4 separate regions of the Homo sapiens genome follow, and regions 1, 2 and 4 are each linked to region 3. The links come from fine-mapping of genetic effects on gene expression. A gene starts in region 3. Each other region holds a variant in brackets. All regions are shown on one strand. Distances are between the middles of the regions.

Region 1 (2,687 bases), 110 kb after region 3:
TTTTGTCCTTGCGATAGTTTGCTGAGAATGATGGGTTCCAGCTTCATCCGTGTCCTACAAAGGACATGAACTCATCATTTTTTATGGCTGCATAGTATTCCATGCTGTATATGTGCCACATTTTCTTAATCCAGTCTATGATTGTTGGACATTTGGGTTGGTTCCAAGTCTTTGCTATTGTGAATAATGCCGCAATAAACATATGTGTGCATGTGTCTTTATAGCAGCATGTTTTATAATCCTTTGGGTATATACCCAGTAATGGGACGGCTGGGTCAAATTGTGTTTCTACTTCATGCCTTCAATCCTAGCTACTTGAGAGGCTGAGGCAGGAGAATCACTTGAACCCAGGAGGCAGAGGTTGCAGTGAGCCAAGATTACGCCACTAGCCTGGGTGACAGAGTGAGACTACGTCTCAAAAAAAGAAAGAAAGAAAACACACACAGGACACTATACTAGTAAAATAGTAATAATGACTGCTTAATAAATAGTACACCACAGGGACTCTTGCTCTGATTTTGTAGACAAGGAAACTGCAGCGTGGGGAGACAAATCGGCTTCCCCAGCATCAACCAGCTGCAAAGTGGTGGGTGACACTAATTGCTTGGGGCCTGGGCAGTGGCCCTGGGTCCTGTGTTCTCAACGACATTGCTGTTGGGTGCCCCAGAGCATGTTGATGAGCAGAATGCACCGTGGGCACGGGTGCTGATGGCAAGTAGAGAGGAGCCGGGATACCCGTGTGGGGCAGGGTCCCACCTGCTCACCCTCCTGCCCATTCTTCACCTGCTCCTCTACAGGGGCTGCCTCAGGAAAGGAGCTGGTGCTGCAACCACAGAGGCTCAGCACTGGGATATCCAAAGGGATCTGCCAAGTGAGGGTCCGTGGAGCCTACTTGGTGTGGAATACAGGGGTGTGGAATTCCCCTTTGGCCTCAACAAGCAGGAATTTTTCTTTCATAGTAAGCCTCTCCGTTCATCCGTTCATCTTGAGTATGTGAATTGTGCCTTCTGCAGACAAAGATGCTCTTGATGGTGTCTTTTTTTTTTTTTTTTTTTGGTAGAAACTAGATCTCACTGTTTCACTATTTTGCCCAAGCTGGTCTCGAACTCCTGAGCTCAAGCAATCCACCTACCTCGGCCTCCCAAAGTGCTTGGATTACAGGCATGAGCCACCACACCTGGCCTTTTTTTTTTCTTTCTTTCTTGAGAAGGAGTCTTGCGCTATTGCCCAGGCTGGAGTGCAGTGGCATGACCTCAGCTCACTGCAACCTCTGCCTCCTGGGTTCAAGTGATTCTCCTGCCTCAGCCTCCCAAATAGCCAGGACTATGGGTGCTCCCCACCACGCCTGGCTAATTTTTGTATTTTCAATAAAGACTGGGTTTCACCGTGTTGCCCAAGTTGGTCTGGAGAACTCCTGAGCTCAAGCAGTCTGCCTGCCTTGGCCTCCCAAAGTGCTGTGGTTATACGCATGAGCCACCACACTTGGCCTTCTTGATGGTGTCTTTCATGAAACAGGGAGGGATCTGTACCCACCCCCGCAGACTCTGGCCAGCCCCTCACCAGTTCAAGCCCAGGTGGGCTCATTATCTAAAGATTATGGCTGCCAAAAAAAAAGCTCACTTAAAATGCAGACCGTAGCT[A/G]CAGAAAATGGCAATAAAATAAAAATAAAGGTTGGTTTGAAACATTGTCTTGAGAAAAGAGACAAATTATGGCAATCAGTTAATTTCAACTTGTGTTTGATAAAATGGTTGTTACTGCCAGTATGCAGCAACTCAGGATGAACAGAGAGGTAATCAAGTGTCGACTTGGTTTCCTTGGAGTAAATGGTCTGAAAAAAATTCTTTTGACAGCATCCTGTACTTTACATTTGACATTGGCAGGAGCATCACTGTGGGTTCTTTTCAGATTTTATCAATCTTCATAAGAGTCTGTTTCTGAATCCATCAGTAATCTGATGATTGGCTTCTCAGGAGCTAATGTGGGCATGTATGTTTTCTCTGTGAGAGCCTTATTTGCCGATGACTTCCCCAGTGTCGTTTCCTTCGGCTTTGTGAAATCCTGCATCTTTAGTGTGGTTTGTGGTCTCACATACAGGTGCACTCTTGTTGCACAGCTTGGGGGATTGGGGGTGTGGGCTTGGTTTATAAGCAGTCCATTCATGAACAGTTTCTTGTTAAGAAGAAATACTGGCTGGGTGTGGTGGCTCTCACGTGTAATCCCAGTGATTTGGGAGGCCAAGGTGGGAGGATCAGTTGAGGCCAGGAGTTTGAGACCAGCCTGGGCAACATAGCAAGACCCCATCTCTACAAAATATACTTTTTTAATTAGCCAGGCATGGTGGTGTGCACCTGTGGTTCTAGCTACTTGGGAGGCTGAGGTGGGAGGATCTCTTGAGCCCATAAATTCGAGGTTGCAATGAGCCAAGATTGCACCACTGAACTCCAGTCTGGAGGACAGAGTGAGACCCTGTGTCTTTAAAAAAAAAAAAAAAAAAAAAAAAGCCCTCTTTTCATATAGCTGATCATATATGGGCATTTAGGAAGCATAAGATGATGTCATACAAAGCATTATCTCATGTCATTAAAAACCCAGACCACAGCTCATTGTACTCTGTAGACATACCACGTTCATTTAACTCTTGTCATTGTTGGACACTGAGGTTGTTTCCACTTGTTCTTTGTCATACA
Region 2 (2,687 bases), 110 kb after region 3:
GTAGAAATTGGTTTTCCGCTTTATTCACCTGATACCTAGTTGGAGTAGCAAAGACAGATAGTAGATAATGAAATTTTGGTTGAACCTAGACATTTTCTCGGTCCTTTATGCCTCTTTCAGCAGAGGGTTAATATATGACCCATTTAATATTGATTCCAATTTAGAAGCTCAGTCTTAAAAAACAAAAGCTAGATCTTTAACTGACCATGTTTCCCTTGATGTCTCGATACCTTTTCTTTTTTTCCATTCTCCGAAGAGAGATTAGAACTGTGTGTTAGAGAGCCCAGAGCAAATTTGGCAATTATGAAAAATTCCAATAAGTTGATCTTCCCCGCAAAAGTTAATGAGTCATTTCACAGAATTAGAGTTTCATTTCTAGTATTTATGCTTTTTTAGAAAATGAGAGAGAGAGAAGATAAATCTTAGTCCATGGTTATAGTTTTAAGATTTCAAAGTTTTGGCAGGTGCAGTGGCTCACACCTGTAATCCCGGCACTTTGGGAGGCCGAGGTGGGTGGATCACTTGAAGTCAGGAATTCAAGACCAGCCTGGGCAACATGGTGAAACTCCATCTCTACTAAAATATAGAAATTAGCCGGGCATGGTGGCAGGCACCTGTAGTCCCAGCTACTTGGGAGGCTGAGGCAGAAGAATCGCTTGAACCCTGGAGGCGGAGGTTGCGGTGAGCCAAGATTACGCCACTGCATGCCAATCTGGGCAACAGAGCAAGACTGTGTCTCAAAAATAAATAAAAAAAATTCAAAGTTTTAAAGAACAAAAAGATCAGGTTCCCAGGATTTACTTTATAGGAAGATAAAACATCAAATCCTGCTCTGACATCCTTTGCGCTGTATTGCAGTCACTGTTTAGATCCTGATTCCTCCAGGAAACAGAAGCCCAGCCTTATTCACCTCTGTAAGGCCAGCCCCTAGCTGAGACTGTCATATAGTAGCCCCCCAATAGGTGAATAGTGGTCAATGGAATTGAATTAAGCGTGATTCAAGTCTACTTATCAGCAGGTAATATCCGTATCACTTGTGAGTTGGTTTTCATGAACTGACTTTTTTTTGGTGGGGGTTGGGGTC[A/G]GAGTCTCACTCTGTCACCCAGGCTGGAGTGCAGTGGTGCCATCTTGACTCACTGCAACTTCCGCCTCCCAGGTTCAAGCAATTCTCCTGACTCAGCCTCCCAAGTAGCTGGGATTACAGGCACACGCCACCACATCTGGCTAATTTTTGTATTTTTAGAAGAGATAGTTTCACTGTATTGGCCAGGCTGGTCGCAAACTCCTGACCTCAAGTGATCCGCTCACCTTGGCCTCCCAAAGTGCTAAGATTACAGGCATGAGCCACTGCACCCAGGCCACAAGCTGACTTTTGTATGGGAAATGCTTCGCCTAGAGGGGTCAATAGAACTTTTCGGTAAAGGGTCAGATAGTAAATATTTTGGGCTTTGTGGCTCTATGGTCTCTGTAGCAACTACTCAACTCTGCCTTCATAACAAGAGAGCAGCCACAGACAGTGCAGTGTTCCAATAAAACTTTATTTCCAGAAACAGGTGGTAGGCCTGCCGGTGATAATTTTCCAACTCTTGGCTTAGAGAAATGTTCCCATTACAGGGTGACGCTCTTGCTCTCCCCAGAACCTTGTCCACATTCTGTATGTGTCTAAGTTTAGGATGCATCTGACGACCCCATTGTAACAACTGCCTGACTGACAGAAAGGTCTGCCCAGAACAAGCCTCCTGAAGGTCTTCAGTGGAGGGCGTGCCTGGGTGAGGCACATGTTCCCCTGAAGACCAGGATGTGATGGATTGCAGACAAGAGGGTCCATGGTGCATGTAAGATGTCTAATAATTGGGTGATCAGCTTCACATGTATTAGAAAAAAATAGAACTAGCTTATCAATTTAAAGAAAATGATTTAATTATCACCTGAGCTCAGGAGTTCGAGACCAGCCTGGCCAACATGGAGAAACCCCATCTCTACTAAAAATACAAAAATTAGCCAAGCGTGATGGCACACACTTGTAGTCCTAGCTACTTGGGAGGCTAAGGCAGGACATTGGCTTGAACCTGGGAGGCAGAGGTTACAGTGAGCTGAGATTGCGCCACTGCACTCCAATCTGGGCAACAGAGCAAGATTCTGACTCAAAAAATAAAAAATAAAAATAAAGAAAATGATTCAGTAAATAGTAGTATGAGTACTGTGCAGATAAGGCAAAACTTGGAGGTTTGTACAGGGGGAATTAGCGTCTGGGCCGGTGGGCAGGGGGTCCTATAACATGGCAGGTGAACAGACAGGATTTGGCTTCTTAAGTTGCTTGGGATAAGCCACTAAACATTTCTCTGCCTTAGTTTTCCCACTTGTAAAAAGAGGGTACTCACCCCAACCTTGTCAAGTTGGTGTATCCCTTAAGGAGAGTCATATATAAAATCAAAAAGACAAGTCAGGCCAGGCGCAGCGGCTCACACCTGTAATCCCAGCACTTTGGCAGGCTGAGGCAGGTGGATCACCTGAGGTCAGGAGTTCGAGACCAGCCTGGCCAACATGGTGAAACCCCATCTCTACTAAAAATACAAAAAATTAGTGGAGCGTGGTGGTGAGTGCCTGTAATCCCAGCTACTCAGGAGGCTGAGGCACGAGAATCACTTGAACCTGGGAAGGCGGAGGTTGCAGTGAGCCGAGATCAC
Region 3 (2,687 bases):
CCACTGACTCCAGGACTCATAGGCATTTATACTCTTAACCACTATGATTCATGGGTGACTCTTGTCAAGGATTAGAGAACAGTAGTTATGGCCATATTAGCTACTCAAACAGTGCTTTGGATGTAGGCAGCTAGTTTAGAAAAGAATTTCCCAAATTTGTAAGATCATAAGAGCTCCCCTGCAGTGCTTGTTAAAAACAGATCATTTTCAGGCCAGGCACTGTGGCTCATGCCTGTAATCCTAGCACTCTAGGAGGCCCGGGTGGGTGGATTGCTTGAGCTCAGGAGTTCCAGATCAGCCTGGGCAACATAGTCAAACTCGTCTCTACTAAAAATACAAAGTATTAGCCAGGCATGGTGGCGCACGCCAATAGTGCCAGCCACTTAGGAGGCTGAGGTGGGAGAATCACCTGAGCCCAGGAGATCGAGACTGCAGAGATTGTGCCACTGCACTCCAGCCTAGGCAACCAGAGTGAGACCCTGTCTCAAAACAACAACAACAACAACAAAACACAGATCATTTTCATAGAGATTTGGATTCAATAGGTCCATTCTGGAATTTGTATTTTCAACACGTTTGACAAATGCTGGCTAAGTAGTTCACTACAATGGCTCTTGAGTTGAAGAGACACTAATTTGGTTACTCGCAGCTTTACTACCTCTCTAGATGTGTGTCACCTTGTGCAAGTTCGTTCATCTCTCTGAGCGTCAGTTTCCCCAAATGACGGATGCAGCTAATAACAGCACCACCTCCTAGGGCTGTAGTGGGGATTAAGTGAGCAGCGTGCAAAGTGCTTAGCGCCCTGCCTGGTGCATAGCAAGCAAAGATAATAACAGAAAGATGGTGGCAGCCACTGGGAAGTTCAGGCTGAGACAGTCTTCCAAGACGTCCACCTTTTCATCTTTTTTTTTTTTTTTTTTGTATTGGCAAGGTCTCTCGCCGTGTTGCCCAGGCTGGTCTCCAACACCTGGACTCAAGCGATCCTCCCTCCTTGGCCTCCCAAAGAGCTGGGGTTACAGGCGTAAGCCACCCCAGTGGCTCCTTCTGACTTTATGATAGAGTTGTCAGATAAAAAAAAATCAGGACGCTTCCATTCAAACCTGCAAAAAGAGAAAAATTTAAAAAAATTAGGACGCCCAGTTCAATTGGAATTTCAGATAATGAAAAAAAAATTTAACGTAAGTAGCTCCCAAATACTGCATAGGACATATTTATACCAAGTCAGTCATTCTTTAAAAAAAAAAATCTGAAATTCCAATTTAACCGGGAGTCCTGCATTTTTACTTGTTAAATCTAGTAACTCTGCCTTTAGGGAAGGACTGACCCCAAAGCCTTATCCCCGCCCACGCGTGCCCTAGACAGTCTCCACTCGCCAGGCGCGCAGGTCGATCCCAGAGGGGCCGCTGGCGCCTCCGCTCCGCCCAGGCAGCACTAGTGGCGCCCCGAGCCACCGGGCCCCTCCCCGTCCCGCCCCAGTCCCGCCCCGAGATCAAAGGGCGTCGCCCAAAGCGGGACAGGTCCAGCGGTTGTTCTGTGTGAAGTCGCGCGGCTTCCACCCACGCAGTGTTCTAAGTGAAGGCCAGAAACTCGCTCGCCATGTCGGCTGCAGAGGCGGGGGGTGTTTTCCACAGAGCCAGGGGCAGGACCCTGGCCGCGTTTCCCGCAGGTACTGCCCGCCCCTCACCCGGGGAGGGGACTCTGGGGCTGCGGAACCTTCCGCCGGGGGAACCTTTTGTTCAGGTGTGCGCTCCGCCAGTCGGACACCATCCGGGGCTGCACCGGGGCCTGGGAGCCGCCATAGCTGCATCAAAGCCTGCTCTTAGGGATTCCAGGGGCGCAGTTGAGAGGCGAGGCCGAGAGAGCGATCTGGTCTAGGAGCCTCCTTGGCCTTGACCTAACTTCCCCCAGAGAAGGGAAGTAAGAGGAGGGTAGCAAAGCATAGTTAATGACAGCTTGGACTCTGCAGCGAGACCTGGTTTCCAAGCTGTGCATTAGCATCTTGGCCTCAGCTTCCACATCTGTGAAACGGGAATACTTGTGGGTGTTACTGGATAAGCGTTCGGTGCATGTTAGAGGGTGTCGGTTTTATTAAGGTTGTTCACCGTTATGTATTCTGTACTCCATAATGACGTTTATTTAAGTCATTCACCGAAATGGTAACACTGCCCCATCAGAGCAGTAGAGAGGGAGGGCATTCGAGAGTCGTAGTGAAGTGCTTGGATTTTGGATTTAGATTATCTGCTTTGCCTTAAAAATGGGTTTGATAATACCTGCCTCATAGGGTTGTTGGAAGCGTAAACAGATCAAAAGTATTTTTGTAACCCGGTGTTGGACGCATGCTAGGTGCTAAGTAAAGAGGGAGGTTTGTTTCTGGTTTGTTGATTCCCCTCTGTGGCTTTTTGCTGCCTGCAGCCAGATCGCCTCCCAGGCTCTCACCAGCTTTATACCCCCAGGGAAGTCACCCTAAATGCCCTATATGATCAGGCTTGTGTCCACTTCCTTCAGGGTTGTCATTCTCTCTCTTGCCCAGTTCTGCAACAGGTTTTGTTGTTGCCCTTGTTTGAACTGCATTTAAAAGGGCCAAGGCCGTTCTTTCCCTGAGGGTCTTGGCGCTTGCTGTTTTCTGCTTCTTTAGCAGGGTTGGTGAGCCTGGCTCTCTCAACCGTCACACCTCATTTTAAAGTTCA
Region 4 (2,687 bases), 140 kb after region 3:
CTTTTTAAGTAAGCAAACAGCAGTATTTCCCAGAGGCAAGAGGTTCAGCAAGAAGTCAGGAAATGTTTTTGTAGATAAGCATCTATCATTCTGATGGGCCATGACTAGTGTGTTCACTTGTAATTCCTTTGCCTTTAAAAAAAGAGAATGATATCAAAAAATAAGTGCCTTATACTGTGAAAAACGATAAAAGGACTTCCTGATTCTAAGTGCTATGGTTTTGAATGTTTATTATGTGTTTTAAGTGCTTTGGCTCAGAAAGGTGGGGGTCACGTGGCCAAGGTCGCCTAACTCATCTTGGTGGAGAAAGAACGGATGTAGATGGCCCAAGGCTTGAGTCCATGCTCCATAACACTGTCCTGTCTTGGAAAACGTTTCTCAGAGGTGAAAGGTTGCACCAGCTCAGCCAGTGGCAACACACTGAGTACGGTATTCAGCACCTTGGACAGCGTTAGCTGGAGGCCCAGGGATTTCCTCCCAGCTCTGCAAAGCCTAGACCAGACCCTGATTGCACCAGGTTCAGGGGGCAGAAGCTTGTCCAAAGAGCAGATGGTTCCAGGGGGAGGATTTTTACTGGGGGAGATTTAGAAACCGAACTGAACCATAATGAGTCACGGGACACAGCCCTGTCTGCAGCAGTAACTGTCCGCAGCTCTAGCTGCTCCATGTCTGGAGTTACCACCACAGGGTGTAGGAAACCACCAGCTGTCTCAAGGCAAGGAATGTCACCTAATGCTCCCCTTTCCAATTAATCACTTTAATTGGAGGAAAAAACAAAAACACAAGGACATGTTACGGGGGAAGGTTTTTTAAAGTGATCTCAAATTGGATTGCAAAGGCTCAAGTGACTTTGGGAATGGGGCTGGGGAGATGATCATTTACTTTTTACAATAAATAATTTTATCTCACATCTTTAGTCAAGTTTCTCCTAAGTTTGGGGAGAATGGGGAAAAAATGTAGTAAGCTTTATGGGACTAGCAACAGAACGTTTTATCCTATTTTGTGA[T/C]TTTCAGTATTAAGAGATTATTGATCACTTGCAGAGTTACAAGGCAAGCACTAGTTTAAATCTGAATTAGACTAGGGCCATTGACCTTATATACCTGTAAAAGACACTACGGTGTATACAACTGTAGAAACAATATACACATAGTAGTTTAATATTACAGTCTGTATTCCAATGCAGAATCTTTTGAGAAAAGGTTGCCAAAACATCATTTGCATTTACTTGAACCCTTTTTTAGACAGAATCTTGCTCTATCACCCAGGCTGGAGTGCAGTGGTGTGATCACAGCTCACTGCAGCCTTGAACTCTTGGGCTCAACCAACCTTCCCACCTCAGCCTCCCAAATTAGCTGGGACTATAGGCTCGTGTCACCACATCTAATTTTTTATTTTTATATTTGTGGAGTTGAAGGTCTTGCTCTGTTACCCAGGCTGGTCTTGAACTCCTGGCCCCAAGCAGTCCTTCCACCTTGGCCTCCCAAAGTGTTGGGATTACAGGCGTTGGCCACTGTACCCAGCCTTACTTGAACTCTTAATACTTATTCCCAAGTGGTACCTAAAATGGTTTTGTGCAGTCACAATATTAGGTAGCAATATTATATTGAGCTGGAGGAAAAAGAAGATTTAGGAGTAAATTGCCAAGGCAAGTTCTGTTAAAAGCTTTCTGTAATAGACATCAGGGATTTTTTTTATTCAGGTAACCTCAACAGTTTTGATTGCACATGTAACATAGTACTTGACAGGTAATACTGATTTTTATAACTTCATAAAATATTCTCAAGCCATGGAGGAGCTCTTATGTATTTTTTAATGAGTACACACACACACACACACACACACACACACACACACATATAGTAAAAGTGGAGGATTCTTTTCTTGGAATAATGATTTCTAGCATTTATCTAGAAAAGATTTTGCTGACTAAATTTTCCTTTTCCTCCAGTGGATTTTTAAACATCAGTGCATGCACATAAATACAGATTGGATTTTTCCTTTAGGCTTTATCTATGTAAATGAAGTCGATTAAATGTGAATAATCATGTTACCCTTCATTATTCTGACCATTATGTTTGAGAAGTAGATTTCTTCACTAAAGGGGCTTTGCAGCACACTTAGAATGAGTGAGCCACTGTGCCTCTCTAGAAACTGGCTTCTTGTCATCATTTCAACATCCACTCAAACGCTCACCCCTGAAAGTGGCCTTCCTGCTTGATATGGTTTGGCTCTGTGTCTCCACCCAAATTGGTTTGGCTCTGTGTCCCCACTGAAATCTCATCTCGAATTGTAATCCCCATAATCCCCATGTGTCAAGGGACGGACCTGGTGGGAGGTAATTGGATCATGGAGGCAGTTTCTCCCATGCTATTCTTGTGATAGTGAGTTCTCATGACACTGATGGTTTTGTGTTTGATAGCTCCTTCACACTCTTTCTTTCCTGTTGCCATGTAAGACATGCCTGCTTCCCCTTCCACCAGGATTGTAAGTTTCCTGAGGCCTCCCCAGCCATGCGGAACTGTGAGTCTATTAAATCTCTTTTCTTTGTAAATTACCCAGTCTCAGGCAGTTCTTTATAGCAGTGTGAAAGTGGACTAATACACTGCTCCACCCTATCTAAGGTTACACTCCTTGTCCCAGTATTGCATTCTTGTTCCCTTGCTTGTTTTTTTCATAGCGCATCGCTG

Evidence for each region. PIP is the estimated chance that this variant, and not a neighbour inherited with it, causes the effect.
Region 1: its variant is the best candidate, but not a certain one, in a credible set for the expression of CPPED1 in whole blood (INTERVAL, PIP 0.52).
Region 2: its variant is the best candidate, but not a certain one, in a credible set for the expression of CPPED1 in spinal cord (GTEx, PIP 0.88).
Region 4: its variant is the best candidate, but not a certain one, in a credible set for the expression of CPPED1 in whole blood (TOPMed, PIP 0.87).

What each region holds. Positions count from the first base shown.
Region 1 is chr16:12,689,031-12,691,717 of GRCh38, reverse strand. The region is part of intron 3 of CPPED1 (calcineurin like phosphoesterase domain containing 1); the gene reads left to right. Among named protein-coding and RNA genes, the nearest start is that of MIR4718, 30 kb to the left of the region's middle. The variant A/G (reference allele first, on the strand shown) is at 1,641.
Region 2 is chr16:12,696,502-12,699,188 of GRCh38, reverse strand. All of the region lies in intron 3 of CPPED1 (calcineurin like phosphoesterase domain containing 1), which reads left to right. Among named protein-coding and RNA genes, the nearest start is that of MIR4718, 22 kb to the left of the region's middle. The variant A/G (reference allele first, on the strand shown) is at 1,085.
Region 3 is chr16:12,802,686-12,805,372 of GRCh38, reverse strand. It overlaps CPPED1 (calcineurin like phosphoesterase domain containing 1), which reads left to right and starts at 1,486. Exons shown (of 4, transcript NM_018340.3): 1 at 1,486-1,666. The coding sequence starts at 1,597. RefSeq lists a silencer at 1,405-1,454 and an enhancer at 1,535-1,904.
Region 4 is chr16:12,659,666-12,662,352 of GRCh38, reverse strand. CPPED1 (calcineurin like phosphoesterase domain containing 1) reads left to right here. Exons shown (of 4, transcript NM_018340.3): 4 at 1-2,554. Among named protein-coding and RNA genes, the nearest start is that of SNX29-AS3, 50 kb to the right of the region's middle. The variant T/C (reference allele first, on the strand shown) is at 1,007.